3 linked regions of the Homo sapiens genome follow. The protein of the gene in region 3 interacts with the protein of the main gene of each other region in a pairwise test. Each region holds a gene or a part of one and is shown on either strand. Other genes may lie near its edges.

What was found. Proteins that work in one complex are often made in the same cells at the same time.
Region 1: the proteins of PDPK1 (region 3) and PPP2R2B interact in binary tests that used the Homo sapiens proteins (3 or more experiments, as listed by UniProt).
Region 2: the proteins of PDPK1 (region 3) and ZDHHC17 interact in binary tests that used the Homo sapiens proteins (3 or more experiments, as listed by UniProt).

The regions. Positions count from the first base shown.
Region 1 is NC_000005.10:146,868,722-146,875,757, forward strand, and holds part of PPP2R2B (serine/threonine-protein phosphatase 2A 55 kDa regulatory subunit B beta isoform), read right to left. Parts: intron 1-7,036. UniProt on the Homo sapiens protein: The B regulatory subunit might modulate substrate selectivity and catalytic activity, and might also direct the localization of the catalytic enzyme to a particular subcellular compartment.
Region 2 is NC_000012.12:76,851,115-76,854,232, reverse strand, and holds the end of ZDHHC17 (palmitoyltransferase ZDHHC17), read right to left. Parts: 3' UTR 537-3,118; downstream 1-536. UniProt on the Homo sapiens protein: Palmitoyltransferase that catalyzes the addition of palmitate onto various protein substrates and is involved in a variety of cellular processes.
Region 3 is NC_000016.10:2,533,155-2,541,056, reverse strand, and holds the start of PDPK1 (3-phosphoinositide-dependent protein kinase 1), read right to left. Parts: upstream 3,037-7,902; 5' UTR 2,945-3,036; coding exon 2,921-2,944; intron 2,439-2,920; exon of another isoform or gene 2,286-2,438; intron 1,222-2,285; exon of another isoform or gene 1,007-1,221; intron 1-1,006. UniProt on the Homo sapiens protein: Serine/threonine kinase which acts as a master kinase, phosphorylating and activating a subgroup of the AGC family of protein kinases.

The DNA of each region.
Region 1 (7,036 bases), on a different chromosome or scaffold from region 3:
ATTGATTGATTCAGAAGAATATTTTTTAGAAAAATGAATCATCTTTTCCCTATCAACATCATAACTGTTCTTTTAAACAGGTGTTCATATACTACATTGTGATGAATTTTTGCCAAGTTTAAGAATACAGGGTTTGGAATCAGATAGACCTGGATGTGACTTCTGTTCTACTCACTGTTGTGTAACTATGGACTAGTAATCATATTATTCTGCTTTAACTTTTCATTTAAAGGGGGATAAGAACAGTATCAGCCTATACAAGTAAACTGGATTACATGAGAAAAATACTTTAAGGCTCTAAGCCTGTACTGGTGCACAGAAAGCCCTCCATAACTACCAGCAATCATTATTAATTATTAACATTCAAATCCACAATGGTTTTGGAAGACACAGTACTGGGCACATATGAATAGGTAGATCAGGTATTCTCATTCTCTACATTAGGAAATTCAGGTTCTTGGTTTAAATGACTGATCCAAGGTTACACAGAAAACAAATAGAAGACCACAGATTTCTGATTTTTTCTTGCCATTTTGCTAAGAAATGGGAACTGTCATCTCAGCTTTAAAGATAATAAAATCAGGAAGGAGGACATTTAAACAAAAACACATATACACAGATAATCACTGCAGCATCTTATGTAATATAAAAGCTGGAAACGATTTTCTATCCACAGGGAACTACTAAATAAACTGTGGTACTGTCATACTATGGAGCACCGTGCAGCCATTAAAAGGCATGAGACAGATGTAGGTGTTCTGATATGGAAAAATCTTGAAGACGTATCACTAGTAGAAAAACAAAGTGCAAATAAAACGGGCAGTGTGTACTCATTTATGCAAACATCCTCCCCAACTATATATCTGTACATGTATATTTAAATGTATGAATAGAAAGATGGCTCTGAGGAAGTCTACCAACTACTGATAATGGTAACCTTTGGGTAGGAAAGTGGGATGGGCATGGGATGGAGGGTGATTCATGCTTTATTTACTTATCATGCTTGAATCCTTTTAAGTAAGAAAGAATATAGTATTATTTGACTTATAAATAAAAACATAAAGGCAGAGGGAAATGTGAATTATAATAATGCAGTTGGCATGAACCAACAGACCTCCCAACTTGAGTGTCTCTAGCCCTAACCTGACTTCTACAAAGCTACATAAGCAATGTTAGTTTCACTGAGTTTCCTGTGTGGCTCTCCCACTGTGGTAGGGTCCTTCCTGGTGGTATTTTGTACTTAGGGACCCAAGTTCTATCTTTCAGACCACCTGGGAACTCTCAGCAGCATCTTGCTACAATATTCCCTATTAGAGACATTTACAGCTTTGCCACCCTCTACACCCTTGTGTGTCTGTAGAGGGACATCAAGCTGATCCTTCTACGTCAAGTGGAGGAGGCGGCCTGCCATTCTTTGACCACTTCAGGTTCATTGCTTAGCAAGGATTCATACCAGTGTGATAAGCAATGCTTGATGGAGGAGGTTTTCAGTTCCCCAGTGTTATGGACCAAATTGTGCCCCCCTCCACCCCAATCTATATGTTGAAGCCCTAACTCCTATGTGACTGTATTTGGAGATAGGTCCTTTAAGGAGATAATTAAGATTAAATGAGGTCATAAGGATAAGGTCTTATGGGGCTGGTGCCCTTGCAAGAAGAAAAAAAAATGCCAGAGATTGCGCTCTCTCTTTTCACACTTGCACACAGGAGAAAGGCCATATGAGGACCCAGCAAGAAGTTGGCTATACATGGGAAGAGAGAACTCACCAGAAACCAACCATGCTGGCACCTTGATCGTGGACTTCCAGACTCCAGAAATGTGAGAAAACAAAATTTCTGTTATTTAGGCAACCCAGTATGTGGCGTTTTTAAAAATGCAGTCTGAGCTGACTAATACACCAAGCACAAAGGCCAGTACACCTGAAACACATCCTCCCACAGGTAAGGTACTCTTCGCCACGCTCCGTCCAACAGACCCCATCCTTCTCAGGTTAAAACCTGTTCATAAGGGCCCCTCTAGATTCCTAAACTCCATACATCTTTTTTCCCCTTACACACAGACCCCCACCCCACTTCATTTAACATTTGTTGTAAGCGATCAAGTCATTTACCTCTAAAGCACAGAAGTGAAAGTCTGACTACCCCCATACAAGCACACACCCTTTCTCATTACCCAGGATGACCCTTTCTCCAAAGAAAGCTATGAACATTAACAATTAATATTTCCCACTATTAACTCTTTCCACAGTGAACTTGGAGCAGGAGAACTCAAAGGTTCCTGGGTTATTTCTGACAAAGTTCCTAGTGGACTTATAAAAATAATCTGTGCTTTCTGCGAGATAGTTATGTTGGGGCTGACTTTCAGCCTGATTCTAGAGTTCTATTGGAGTCAAAAGAAGGAAATTTGGTGGTAAAGATGACAAGTTGGGTGAAAGCAAAATCGTCTTCTTATTAATGGAAGATGAGGGGAACCAGCTGGAGAGCCACTCTGGCCAAAGTGAAGCCTCAGACATCTACATATTTATGTGCAAAAGAACATCTGCCATCCCACAGCTGCCTCCGTCATATTTCTCTTGCTGTGGCCCAGGCAACTATATGAGTTGTCATGAGCTGGGAAGAGTGGGTGCCTAGATGGCCCAGCGGGACCATCTCAGCTCAGCTCAGTCTGGGAGCTGCATGCTTACTGTCCTACACTGGGGATGAGTGACATGGAGAAAGCTATTCAAAAAACTCCAGCTAGTTCTCACATCTTGATTGCTCAATTCCATAAACATTTTTTTCTGTTCTTATTATATAACAGAAGAAATCTACAGGAGTAAGTCAGCTAAGAATTCTGTTACTGGGTCGTAGAATTCAGCTTCCTCCCTGTGGGATAATGGAAAAGGCCCAGAGACGTGCACTGCTGTGCTAGGAGAAGATAGATCAAGTAAATCCAGCAGCACCGACCAGGCGCCAATGGGATATATGTGGAGGGTGGAGCACAACTTGCATTTCTCCAAAAGATCCTGAGCAGCATGGGTGAGCAAAGAACATGTGCCAAGAATCCACACAGTCATGAGCTCTAATCTGGTTATGCCACTTACAAGTGAGTATGTTTGTAATACATGTGTATTTGTTATGCAAGTTCCTTTGGTTCTCTGTACCTTGAAATTTCTTATTTTAAAAATGAGGTTAATGCAACCATTCTCTCTGGGTTGTTGATGGAGATTAAATGAGTAAACATAAGAAATACCTAGGAAAATGCCTGGAATAGACAGTACTCGCGATACCTTAGTTTCTTTCCCTCAGCTAAGTGTCGAAATTGGACCCCTATTTCTTCTTAAATGCAAACGCCAAAGTCTAGGAATGTCAGTCTACAGCTGTGCTCTTTTCATTGGGCATTACCAATATTTTGACAGGACTGGCCTAATATTATTCACCCCAGGATCATTGGTACATTTCTGACCAGCACTCATAAAGGGCTTGGGATTGCCCCTGGGGACCTGGATGCTAATAATGAATACTTGCTAGTGATTTTCAATGCATTCTGGTTATTATGTTTAGTAGCAGAACATTTCCCATCCCCAGAAAGGTCATTTACAATAGTGTAAGGCAGCTACTTCTCACCTCGCATTTCAGGTTTCTCTGAGAACAGCAGAGAGCTCAAACATTCATCCATATGCATTGGAAACAGCATTCTGATCTGGCATTTGCATACAAATACCAAAGCAACTTAAGGAACTATGAGGCAGCTCTCCATCATATGACACTACCCCCTTTTATTTTTTCAATGCCTTCCCAGCATCTTCATATCAAAAGCCATTTTCATGTACCTTCCCAGCTTTATTCATTATAAGTTTCCCCTTTCTTGAGCTTATTTGGAATGGGGGATGGAGGAGGAATCTTTACTTCCTCACTTTTACTCTCTGTGGCCCTAAAAAGCTAATGTATTTCACAAATCACTCAGATCTCAAACCTGGAGACGTTCTAAACTCAACTCATCCAAGACTGGACTCTTCTTATCCTACCACATTGCTGAGAAATGGCCATATATTATAGTATTACTTGAATAATATCAGTGTGTGGTTATTTATGCTTACCAAGGCCCTATTCTATTGTGAGGTACTTTTTTGCTACAATTTCTTCATACCAAGCCAAGATCCACTTCCTTGTACTTTCTCACTCATTGGTTCAAATTTTGCCCTGAAATGTTCTTATCTGAGGCATCTCATCTATTCATACAGTTTTAAGTACCTTTAATATGCTGGTGATGTTTAATCTCAAATTTATTATCTAGTCCAGGTCTTTCTCTTGAGCTTCAGACCCAGAAATCCAATTGTCTACTTGCAAGTCTCACTGTGAAACTAGATGTCTCACTGTCTTCTCAAACTAATCAGTTTTCAGTCTGTTTCCGCTTTTAGTGATGCGCCCCATTATGCATCCATTTTCATGGCAAAATTCTGGGAGTTGTCCTTGACATCACCTTCTCCATCTGCACCCAATCATAGTAAGTAAGTGCAATGCAATCTTTCTCTATTACGTATCTTAAATCCATCTAATTCTCTCCATCTCTACTGATGCCACCATCCTGGAGCACACCATGACCTCCTAATTATCTCCCAACTTTCATTCTTTTTCATTACATGCCTGGCTCTCTAACCCCATCCTACACAGCAGCCAGATTAAACTTCTAGAAAAACAAATCTGATCATGTTTCCCTTTTCCTTAATGGCTTTCCATTCATCTTTGGATAGAGTCCAAACTCCTTGTGGTCAACAAGGCTTGATATGATCTGGTCCCTGAATACTTCTCCAGTCTTTTTTTCCCCCAACATTTTATTATGAAAATTCAAACAGACTGCAAAGTGGAAAAAAAATTACAGTGATTATCCATAGACCCACCACCTCAATTTAGTTATTAACTTTTTTTTTGAGATGGAGTCTCGCTCTGTCACCAGACTGGAGTGCGGTGTCGCGACCTCGGCTCACTGCAACCTCTGCCTCCTGGGTTCATGCGATTTCCTGCCTCAGCCTCCTGAGTAGCTGGGATTACAGGCATACACCACCATGGCTGGCCAGTGACTAACATTTTATACTTGCTTTATCATATGTCTATCCATTTACCCATCCCTCTCTCTTAGCATTAATCTTTCTTGCTTCTGGTACATTTCAAAATGAACTGCAGACTCCATTCTCATTTTTATCACTCTTCTCCCTGTTCCTAGCCATAGTCATCTTTCCATTCCTTGAATCAGTTAGGCTATTTTATCTCTCTGGGCTTTTGTACCTATTGTCCCTTCTACCTAAAATGCTTTCAGGTCTTGTTAATTGCAAATTCATCCTTTAGTTCTCAGTTTCAGCTGTCTGAGAGGCTGTCCTTGAACTCCCGATCTAAATTAGATCCACCTTTCCACCTTATGACCCCAAGGCATCTTGTGCCTTTCCTAAATATCACTTATCACAATTGGTAACTATATATTTATTTGCAAAATTATTTGTCTCATACTATCTCCTTTGCTAGATTGAAAGATCCCTGAGGACAGAGACCACGTCTGTATTGGAACATCCCGTATCACCTCTGCAAAACGTCAGTATTTGTTGAAGGAATTAAAGGCAGAATGAATCAATAATTGAAAGGAGCTACTTGGAATAGTAAACTTGTTCTTCCTTTAATATGTATAAACAAGACAGTTTTTTAAAAAGGCTTCTGAGGGAAGGTGGAACCCACTTGTTGCCAGAATATAACCAGGAAGTACATTAAGTAACAATAACAGCTATAATGAATTAAGGGTGGGCTTTGTATTAGGCATATCCCGAGTGCTTGAGTGCTTTCTCTGCATCAAATAATTTTTCTTTGGCATAGGTTCTATTGTTATTCCCACTTTCCAGCTAAGGAAACTGAGAACAGAGCAGTTATTTTAAAACACCCCATCTATGTAGAATATTTGGTCTATCTGTGGCCCCATTTGAAAGTAGGAAGATTAATCTAGAAAACTCACAGACTGCTATAATGGAGATAGGGTTTTACTTGGCTGTAACAGAAGCCTAAAAATATAGCAGGAAACCCACATATAGAGAGATTTGAGAGATGAATCCCTGGTTAGGAAACCTGGGGTTCCATATCTGAAAAAAAAAATCAAACCATTGTGTTGACTTTATTTTTGTGGGAAATTTCAACCCTACCCAAGGCCCTTCCTCTATATAACCCCATACACACACTTCAAATTTTCCCTGCAAAGGATTTTATGCCTGATGGAAATATAGCTTATACACTGAGATAAAACCATTGCAATCTTTCCCAGAATAAGAGCTGATGGTTAAAGGAAAATGAAGTAGTGCAGAATTTCCTAGTGGGAGAACCTGGCCTTCAGACACTGGCTTGAGTTTGAAGACAAGGTTTTCCATTGAATGTGTGACTTTTGGCAAATTAGTAACATCTTCAGACCTCAGTTGCATCAGTTTCCTTCTTTGAAAATGGAAATGACAACATCCATTTAACAGGGTTTAGATATATTGAAATGCTATACATAAAGAGCTCAGCACAGTGCTTGGAACATAGAAGATGCTCAAAGATGTTAACTTTAAAAGAGGAGGAAAGGTAGGGGAGGGTGGTAATTTTCATGCTCAGAATTAAAAAAAAGTCCTAGGAAATTTATTTATTAAATGCACACCATGCATTCTTTTGAGAAAGACAGAGAGAGAGAAAGAGACTGAGAGAGGGGAGCTTGGGTGAAAGTGTCCTTTAGCATTTGCATTGCTCTTAGCTGGATGAACTTGCCTGCAGTCACCACTTACAATGCAAATTGAGTTTAGAGTCCTTCACACTAACTACACAGCAAAAACCTTTCAGCTTTAAATAGAACACTGCAATGTGGAATGATCTGAGCAAACAGAAGAAAAATTCAGAAATACATGTGAAGGAGATATTTTGGAGGAAAAAAAAGAACAATCTGACATAACTGAGCAGGTAGGAGGAAAATGTAGAAATAGTAAAGGAAACAGAAAAGCAAGATCTATGGAAGGACTAGAAGCTAATTCCCCACCCAGTAAGAGGGTATA
Region 2 (3,118 bases), on a different chromosome or scaffold from region 3:
TCCTGTTTAATACCACTGGGTTCTCAAACCATTAACAACCACTGGAACAACAGGAAACAGTTCCTTAATAATTTTTGCCTTTTAAAGTCCCAAATAAAGAAGTTCTCTCTGCCACGCATATCTTCTCAAGTAACTGAGATCAACGTTTGGTAGGTTTCATTCTGCAGTATTTTTCTTTATATAGTACATTTTGCAATATTTTTCTTTAGTATCTTTAGACATATTTAAAACTTGGAGATTCATACAGTCCCTGAGGATCCTAATTAACTACATGGAATTCAAAAATTCTTAAAAAATTTATTATCTTTATTTAAAAAAAAATTACACACACACACACATGCATACACACAGGATTGGAAATTTTTTTTTTTTTTTAGAATACTAACACCATCTTTTATTTTTCCAAATTCCTACAGTCTTATGCCACTTGACTCCTAGTTAACCAGGATATAAATGTATAATCTTTTCATATCATAGGTACCACTATCATTTCATCAATTTCCTGAAGTAAATTGAGTGAAATCATAAGCACACACTTAAGAGTCAGTATTTATTCTGATTAATATTTTACAAAATTTTGACATTTAATTTATGTAAGGAGGGCTAATTTATTAAACACTTTACAGGTTTTTCTTTCCACAGAATAACACGGTAAGTAGCAAAATAATACTTGGCACAGTTATAAATAAAGAAAATATAAAATAAAAACATCCATAGCTTAAGTACAATGATGCTGTTTTACGCCCATTAATATCAAATAAATTCCTGGAAACAACAAAAATATGAATGAAAAAAAACTCCAAGGAAGTAATTCATGTTCAGTGCTGAGAATTAAGTTCCTATTTGCTAAAAGTATCCAATTAAGTTGATAAGAACTATTCCCAAAGGTTCACCATCATACACAACTTTAGAACTGGGTTTATAGTTGGTTCCACACACAGGACCTACAAAATAATTAAACAGATGGTATACTGCTGCATAGCTGGCTCCTGACCATCTGACCATTTCTGAGTTATAGATTTCACAGGTACTACAAGATGGTTACTACAAAAGCATTCACATTGCTAGTATTTTCCATGTAATTACACATCTAGAGGTTTGTCTTTTTAACTGAATGACATCTCTTTTGCACTGAAAATATTGTACCACAAACAAAGAAGATGGTAACAACATTCTTAGCCAAACTCTGAAAAAACCACCATAGTCTTTAACTGTTGATAAAAATGTATTCGATAAAAATGCAACTGAGTCTTCATGTGAAGTGGCTCAAAATACAAAAAATTAAAACAAATTCTAGCATTTTATAAATAACTTTGAATTTAAAAATTATCTAAAATTTCCCCCAATTAGTAGTCAAAACTAGCTGACATTTGTAAAGTTAACCAATTTTTACATTCTATGACAAAATGGCACAATGCTATTGCCACCCCACACCCATCTCTTCCCTTTTCAAAAATAAAGTACATATGCCAATTTTCTAATATTAAAACACATACACTAAGGGTAATCTTTTTTTGATGTGTGACTTATGGTCAAATAAGCTACTATATAAAAATGGTACTTGGAAATACTGAACATCAACTATATACATTTCACTGCTCCTCTTACTAAGGCAAGGGGCGGGTATACCACTAGATTGCTTTAATACCTGTAATCTGCATTTTACAGGGAAGACTAGTTTTACCAAGCATCAGACATGCAGTGAACTTGCAGGGTATAATGCCTATTAACAGCAATTTTGAACATCACTAGAAGCTCATTAGTTATCTCCCTTTTCTTTTTGGTTGGACAAAATGAAATGAGCAGCTTTAAAAACACTAACACAGACACAAAGAGAAAACTATTTGATAAATTATTTATATACAGATACACATTCTTTACATTGGTCTAGGATCTGTCATCAGTCTGACCACCATTCCCCCACATCTCCCACCCCATTCCCTCTCACAGATTTCCCACAGGTTGCTCGAACCACAGTTTGCTACAGCACTTAAGATGAATAAACCAAATCTCACCCTGTAAACAATATTTATGGAAGCAGTGACTAGTAGTCCACCATGAAGGTATGAAAATGCTGTGACAAAAATTGATCAGTGCATCACATTTAACAAAAAGAAAATTTTTTCTAAAACTGTTTCAGAACTTACTCAATATTGGATAAACTGAAATACTCTTGGGGATGAAATTCTACTTTCTGATAGGTCATTTTATTGAAACCAGAATATACTGTCAGCTTTTCTTTTATTCACATGTGCTATGTACTTAGATCATGCTCCATCTTTAGTTAAATGCCATTATTTTGTCTACAATTATTTTGCAGCTGAGAATTTAAAAGGAAGTATATCCATGTATCACTATTACTGAGAATTTTGCATTATTTGTTCTGCCTTTTCTTGAAAATACCACCTTAACCCTTAAAAATGGAACTGTTTTTGAACATCAAATTAAATTCTAATTTATGCTTCACTGGATAGTATCTGCTAGTATACATTCTATGTGGTGTGTCATGCAATTAGCAGGGCTTTTAAATTTGAACAAAAAAACATGACTTACTATACTCATGCAAGTGCTTCATTATCAGACCGTAAAACCTCAGAGTAAGGTTACTACAAATTATTTCACTGAACTAGAAATATATCAGCATTGCAACAGCTGATAGAAACAAAACATTGTTAGCACATTTTATTGTGAACATTATTTTCTCCTGCCTTTGAAGACAACATCACAGTAGATCCCAATCACATGATTTTCATCACAGTATTTATGTGTACATTCTGAAATGTACATAATAACTAGTCAATCAACTTAAAACAATGCTCCTGGAATTAGATGCAATACTCGTACTAGACTGCATCATAACATTTAGCCAAATAACATAAATTTAGTTTTAGTTAAAACTGAACATTTCTGATCAGTACACCATGTCTGTCAATAGAATAAGTTTACCCTTTTTTTGTGAAAAATACTGTGAGAACAAAACCCAAAAGTTGAGTATGTTGTGAATTTCCACATTAAGAACCATTAAAATTATTTTTTATCATCTTTACTCTTCCCAGAAATGGCAGTGTGTTCTGTCCATGTTTACTTTTGTTAATAAAAGTGTTGAAAAAAAGACTGT
Region 3 (7,902 bases):
CTGTCAGGGCAACGTTGCGTACAGGAATACATCACACTATGCACCAGACCAGCCACATAAGGAGGAACTCCCCAAAAGGAGAGAGAAAATCGAAAGCCACTTCTCTCCATGCTCCCTGCTTCTCCCCTCACCTTCCCCTAAGGATGCAGCCACCTTTGCAAAAGACAGAACCACCCTAGGGAGGGCAGGAGGCCACTCTGCCTAGTCCCCCAATTCTACCTTCAGCAAAATCATTACATGTTTCTTTGTTCCAAAGGGAGGATTTCAAGCCTCACCCATTCAGAGTATCGGCCCTCAAACAAGGCCGAATCACAGCCTCTTCCCAAACAGCTGCTTTCTGACAGCAGGAGGCTGAAACAGGCCCCGGGGTCACAGAGTTCAGCCATCTGCCAAAGAAATATGTACAGTTCTTCCATATGAAGACACCCCTCCTACCTCCAGCACGGCATGGTCAAGACATTCAGGCCCAATCCCTGGGAAGACATCCTGGGCAGTGGCACTGAAGATTTCCTTACAGAGTGCTGGGCTGAGCTGCCCGGCAGACCCTCCCTCAGGGGCTCCGAACGTGAGGGGCAGGGTGACACTGGAGTCTCTACCACTTATGAGGCAGGTACCTAACGCCTCTGCAGCTCAGCTTCTGCACCCGTAAAATGGGAACAACACCTACCTCGCAATGAGGTGTGAAAGTACCTAGGGAAGCGCCTGTCTTGAGTAGTCAGATCAAGAAATGGTACTCACTGCCTCTGGCCCACTTAGCATCAGACTGGGCCAGGCCACTGTCTGCCTTCACGCTCGCACTGCTCCCCCTGTTGGCTGTCCACGCGGACACACAAGGGAAAGTTCACTGGGAAGGGGGCTTCTCACACAGGGCCTACAGGGCCACCCTAAAGTCCAGATGCAAACCCACTTGAACCCTGAAGATCTATCCATCCTCAGGTGAAAATCCAGGATCAGGGCTGCCTCTACCATTACAGACAGGAAACACGGCATGTTCTCACATACGTACACATGGGGGAATCCAGCTGACAGATGCAAAACGCTCGTTCGTGACACTTCCTCATGTGGAAATCCATCTTGCATTCTATCATTCTTGCTCACTGGATTCCAGTGTTTTTGTGCAAAAAAGCCATCTCATGCGAAGAAAACTGCAGATATGAAATGTCCATCATGTGGAACTGCCAAGGCCATGAGAAAATTTGCTCTTTCCTCTTCCCGTGGATGACACCAAATACACACCTTGCATTGGAACAGCGTTACTGGGTGCGAGTTAACCTCACAAATTTCGCCATGACTGTCACTGGGTGCAGGTTAACCTCACAAACTTCGACATAACTCTCGGCCCCAGCCTCCACTGAGCCTGGCCAATCCGCCTAATTCATGTTTTTATGTTACCCGGGCCACTCTGGTGTACAGCCACACATGTCGAAATAGCGAAAGGCATCCCTTCAACATTTTTCTCAGCTGAACCTTCTTCCTTAACACGCATCTCTACAAAGTCCACGAGTGAGCTGCAGAAAGTTCAAGAGCCTCCTGACGTAGTTACAAAATTCAGCGTCACTCTGCCTTTTTCTCAGAAGAGGGCCCATACCTTTCCTCAGGTTCTCAAACAGACTCACAACCCCCCACTCCCCGCCCCACAAAAAAAAAGATCAAGAACGCCTATCAAAAAGCCACATCTGCCGGGCGTGGTGGCTCACGCCTGTAATCCTAGCACTTTGGGAGGACGAGGCGGGCAGATCACTTGAGGTCAGGAGTTCCAGACCAGCCTGGCCAACATGGCGAAACACCTTCTCTACTAAAAATACAAAAATTAGCCGGGCATGGTGGCATACGCCTGTAATCCCAGCTACTCAGGAGGCTGTGGCAGGAGAATCGCTTGAACCCGGGAGATGGAGGTTGCAGTGAGCTGAGATCGCATCACTGCACTCCAGCCTGCGCGTCGAGAGGGAGACTCCATCAAAAAAAAAAAAAAAAAAAAGCCGCATCCTGGAAGACACGGGATCAATTAAATTTCTTGGGTTTTCCTTCATTTAAAATATTTGCCTTTTAAATCAAATGTTAAAGCCATGTAGACGTTCTTCCATCACCCACTGCACATCGCATACAAGGCATAAATTTTTAAACCGTCGTCCCCAGACTGTAGAACTTAGCATATGGAAAACATAAAAACACGAGGGATACTTTTAGCGATAGAGAGAAAATATAGAAACACCAGCGACACTTTTAGCAAAACATTTCACCCAACAAGTGGTTTGTTTTGGTCCTTCCCCTAAAATCCCTCCTACCTGTCAAGCTCACTTTCCCCTCGGTGATCCTGCACATTCGGCCTCCCAGGGGCTTCCCACAACGCTGAGCACAGCCACGGGCAGCAAAAGCACCCAAATGCCCCTTGGCCGGGCCGTGAAAGGCGAGTTTTCCCGACCACTGTCATCAAGAATCTGGAAAAGGGGGCCCAGGAGCATCAGGTGCTTTCAGCAAGAACTTGCACCTTCTGCTTCTCTCGCAGGCGGAGGCGCCAAGGACCCCGTTCCAGGTGGAAGCCCAGGGCGGTTCCTCTACAGACAGAACCGAAAGGTAACCCTGGAGGCTCGGCTCCAGGCTGCGCCAAGCCGAAAACAAACTTTCCAGGCACTTCCACCCCGCTGGGCCGGGTGACACCTCCCGGCCTCCCCCGCCCTCCGCGCGTCTGTCAGCGCCCCCGGCCAGGCCGCCGCCCGCCGCAACCCAGGCCCGGTCTCCCCGCCGCAGCCAAGCAGCGCCCTCGGCCGGCGCCCGCCATCCCCGGCCCGGCCGCCCGGCTGCAGGTAAGGAGGCACCCGGCCCTCGGGACCCCGGGCCGCCCCGCCTCGCCGGACCCGGGCGGCCGCCGGACCCGGCAGGGTAACAAACCGGCGCGTCCAGTCCGCCGCCGCGCGCTCACCAGCTGGCTGGTGGTCCTGGCCATGGGCCCCGCGTCGGCGCGGGCGCCTCCCCCGCAGCGCTGCGCGGCTCGGCGCCTCCTCAGCGTCCTCCTCCCCGAAGCGGAGCCCCAGCAATGGCCGCCCTCATCCTGCGCCCGCCCCGTCGCCCGCCGCCCCCCGCCCCCGGCGCCGCCCCGCCCCCGCGCGGCGCCGGGCAGGACTTCCGTCGCGCCGCAGCCGACGCCCGCGCCCATTGGCCGCGCCCATCGTCGCTCCGCCGCGGCCTTAGTGGGCTCCGCCTCCGCTCCAGCTGCATTTCCGGGTTGGGGCCTGGCGGGCGGGAGAGGCCCGACCCCGCCTGGGGAGGGGGACCTCGCGCGAACCAATCCCAGGGCCTGCGGGGCGGGGCTGGGCGGGGCTGGGCGGGGCAGGGGGCGAGCTGTCATTCCGGCATCCCAGACCGGGAAACTGAGGCTCAGAGGGGACCAGGCTCCGGCCAAGGTCACGCCCGAGGTAGCGGCGGAGCTGTGCTCGAACCCGGAACTCGGATTCCGGAGCCGGCTCTGCGTAAACTCAGAGGCGCAACTTTGCTAGTTTCACAACTAACAAGCGTTCACGGAAGGAAATCTGGGCTATCAAGTCACATTCACGGCCGGGCACGGTGGCTCACTTTGGGAGGCGGAGGTCGAGGCGGGCGGATCACTTGAGGTGAGGAGTTCGAGGCCAGCCTGCCAACATGGAGAAACCCTGTCTCTACTAAAAATATACAATTAGCCGGGCGCCTTGTAGTTGTTAATGTCGATAATGTTTTTTTGTGTTTTTTTGTTTTGGGTTTTTGGTTTTTTTGAGATGGAAATTTGCTCTGTTGCCCAGGCTGGAGTGCAGTGGCTCGATCTCTGCTCACTGCAACCTCCGCCTCCCGGGTTGAAGCGATTCTCCTGCCTCAGCCTCCCGAGTAGCTGGGACTACAGGCATGTGCCACCACACACAGGCAAATGTTTGTATTTTTTTGTAGAGACAGGGTTTCACCATGTTGGCCAGGGGCTGGTCTCCAACTCCAGTGATCTGTCTGTCTCCGCCTCCCAAAGTGCTGGGATTACAGGTGTGAGTCACCACGCCCGGCCAACTTTATTTTTTTTTGAGACAGAGTCTCTGTCGCCCAGGCTGGAGTGCAGTGGCGCGATCTCGGCTCACTGCAAGCTCCGCCTCCCGGGTTCACTCCATTCTCCTGCCTCAGCCTCTCCGAGTAGCTGGGACTACAGGCGCCCGCCACCACGCCCAGCTAATTTTTTTGTATTTTTAGTAGAGACAGGGTTTCACCGTGGTCTCAATCTCCTGACCTCGTGATCCGCCCGCCTCTGCCTCCCAAAGTGCTGGGATTACAAGCGTGAGCCACCGCGCCCGGCCAACTTTATTTTTTTTTATACTGACACATGCCCATGCAGTTCTTGAGTAATGCACAGAAAAATCGGAAGCAGTGAAGGACAAACAGCTTGAGGAACTAGTACACAGTGAACTCTAGAACACGGAGCCCAGGGTGGAGGAGCCTCGGGGCAGGGGCCAAGGGCCAAGGGTCAAGGGTCACAAGAAGAAAGCATCTGAGCAGGCACCAGGGGACAGGGGAGAGAGGGGCAGCTGAAGGTCAAAGAAGAAAGGACAGTTCTCAGTTGTCCTGGGGGCCCCAGTGGCAGCCAGAATGCTTGGCCAAGCCCAAGGCAAGCTAGACCAGGAAACCCCTCGCCCTCTGGCGACACAGACAAATCTCCCCATGGGTCAGGTCCAGTGGCTCATCCCAGGACACCGCACAGACAGCGGATGTCTCACCTGGCCCAGCACGGTTCTCCCGACCCGGGCTGGAGGAAAGAGACTGACCCCTCTCTTTATCTCACCCTTTCCTGCCGAGAACCTCTGTCTATGGCCAATGGATGACCTCAGGCCAAGAATGCAATAACTTGGCCTGACGTTGTGAGGTCACGGTCCATCCAGGGAGGGGCAAGAAAATGACCACAACCATCCCGGGAGGGGCTGGAAAGCTGCCTCATGTGCGTGGCACTGTGCTGCGTCTACGTGTTCCTCACTCGCCTCTACAATGCTCATGGCACGAGGGAGGAAACGGGGGTGCAGAGGCTAAGGAACGTGCCCAAAGCCCTACAGCTGGTGTATTAGTTATATACTGCTGTGTAACAAATTGCCTCAAAACTTTGATGTGTAAAACAACAAAGAAACTCATGGCTCCTGCGGGTCTGGAATCCAGGAGAGGCCAGGCTGGGTGGTCTGGCTCAGGCTCTCTTGTGAAGTTGCCATCAAGATGCTGCCAGGACTGAGTCATCTAAAGGCTAGAGCAGGGCCGAAAGATTCACTTCCTAAAAGGTTCATTCCCACGTTCCCACAGCTGTGGGCTGGAGGCCTCCGTCCCTCACCAGTGCGGCCTCTTCCCAGGCGTGTGTGTTTTCAAGCCCCAGCAGCTGGCTTTCCCCAGAGCGAGTGGCCCAAGAAAAAGAGAACACACACAAGATAGAAGCCGCTGCGTCTTTAATGACCTAACCTCAGAAGTGACACACCATCACTTCCAACACATCTGCTGGTCACACACAACCCTGGTAGAAAGTGAACGGGCGTGTTTTGGGAGGCTGAGGCAGGAGCACTGCTTGAGGCTAGGTGTTTGAGAGCAGCCTGGGCAACAAAGTGAGACCCTGTCTCTAACAAAAAAAAAACTTTTTAAATAAAATCTTTTAAAAAGTGAAACAAGGTTACACAAGGGTATGAAATCCAGAAGGGGCCATTCCTGGGGGCCCCCCTTCAAGCTAGTTGAGGACAGAGCCAGGATTCCAATCTCAGGGAGAGACACAGAGAAGCTAGAAGCACAGGCCCAGCCTGGACCCTGCAGGTGTGCACACCAGAAGGCCCTGAGTTACAAAGCCAGGGAAGGAAGGGCTCTCCCAGCAAGGATCCCAACCTGGATTGCATCTCTAGACTGACCCTGAAGCTACTCAGTAGCGTCTGGAAAGGAGACTAAAGGGGAAAATAGGGGGCAGGGAGATCAGGTGAGAGAAAAGGGGGCTCTCAAAAGACAAGAGCACTGGCTAGGCGCTGTGGCTCACACCTGTAAGCCCAGCACTTTGGGAGAGTGAGGTGGGTGGATCACTTGAGGTCAGGAGTTGGAGACCAGCCTGGCCAACATGGTGAAACCCCGTCTCTACTAAAAATACAAAAATTAGCCAGGCATGGTGATGGACGCCTGTAATTCCAGCTACTCAGGAAGCTAAGGCAGAAGAATCTCTTGAACTCGGGAGGCAGAGGTTGCAGTGAACCAAGATCGCACCACTGCACTCCAGCCTGGGTGACAGAGGGAGACTCTGTCTTAAAAAAAAAAAAAAAAAAAAGGTCTCCTGGCTGCCTCTGGCCCACAAGGCCCTGGTCACATGTCTGAGGCTCCCAATATACATTCGCTGGGCTGCGGATACATGGATGGATGGAAGATACAAAGTCATTCAGTGGTTTCCAAGCCACCAGGTAAATATCCTCCCATATAAGCCATACCAAGGGAGAATCAGACTTGACTGGGAGTCAGGAAACAGAAAGTTGCATGAGATCTTAGGCAAGTAATTTCCCCTCCTTAAACCTCAATTATCCCCGCTGTAAAATGGGCTGGCTCAACAACTGCTAAAAGTCCCAAAAGTGGAAAATATCCAGTGTTGGTAGGAATGCAGAGAAAGGGGCACGTTCATGTACCGATGATGGGAACATCATATTTCCTTTAAACCTGAGCACTGGGAATTCCTGTCCTAGGCCCTTCTCTCTAAAAGGCAGAATAATGTCCTCTCCAAAGATGTTCTCATCTTAATCTCCCAACCTGTGAATATGTTATTATATAGAGAGACGAATTAATCAGCTGACCTTATAGCTGGATAATTATGGCTAGGCATGGTCGTTCAAGCCTGTAATCCCAGCACTTTGGGAGGCAGAAGCAGGAGGATGATTTGAGCCCAGCGGTTCAAGACCAGCCTGGGCAACACAGTGAGATCCCATCTCCGTAAAAAACTAACAAAAACTGGGCGCAGACCAGGCGCGGTGGCTCACGCCTGTAATCCCAGCCCTTCGGGAGGCCGAGGAAGGTGGATCACGAGGCCAGGAGTTTGAGACCAGCCTGGCCAATGTGGTGAAATCCCATTTATACTAAAAATACAAAAATTAGCCAGGCACAGTGACAAAAATTTAGCCCAGGACTTCAAGATCAGCCTGGGCAACATAGTGAGATCCCGTCTCTTTAAAAAACAAACAAAAACTGGGCGCAGACAAGGCGCAGTGGCTCACGCCTGTAATCCCAGCACTTCGGGAGGCCGAGGTGGGTGGATTACTTGAGGCCAGGAATTACAGACCAGCCTGGCCAACACGATGAAACCCCGTTTATACGAAAACTAAAAAAATTAGCCAGGAACTGGAGGCTGAGGCAGGAGGATCACTTGAACCTGAGAGGTTCAGTGAGTTTGCAGTCAGCTGAGGTAGCATCACTGCACTCCAGCCTGGACGACAGAGTGAGACTCTGTCTCAAAAAAAACCAAACAAACAAAAAAAACTGGGCGTGGTGGCTCACACCAGTAATCCCAGCACTTTGGGAAGCCGAGGCACGCACATCACGTGAGGTCAGGAGTTCGAGACTAGCCTGGCTAACATGGTAAAACCCTGTCTCTACTAAAAAAAAAAAAAAAAAAAAAAAAAAAAAAAATCTGGGCGTGTTGGTGCATGCCTGTAATCCCAGCTACTGGGAAGGCTGAGGCAGGAGAATCACTTGAACCCAGGAGGCTGAGGTTGCAGTGAGCCAGGATCGCGCCGGGCTGGGCAACAGAATGAGACTCCGTGTTAAAAAAAAAAAAAAAAAAAGGCTGGGCACAGTGGCTCACGCCTGTAATCCCAGCACTTTCAGAGGCCTAGGCGGGCGAATCAATTGAGGTCAGGAATTCAAGACCAGCCTGGCCAACATAGTGAAACCCTGTCTCTACCA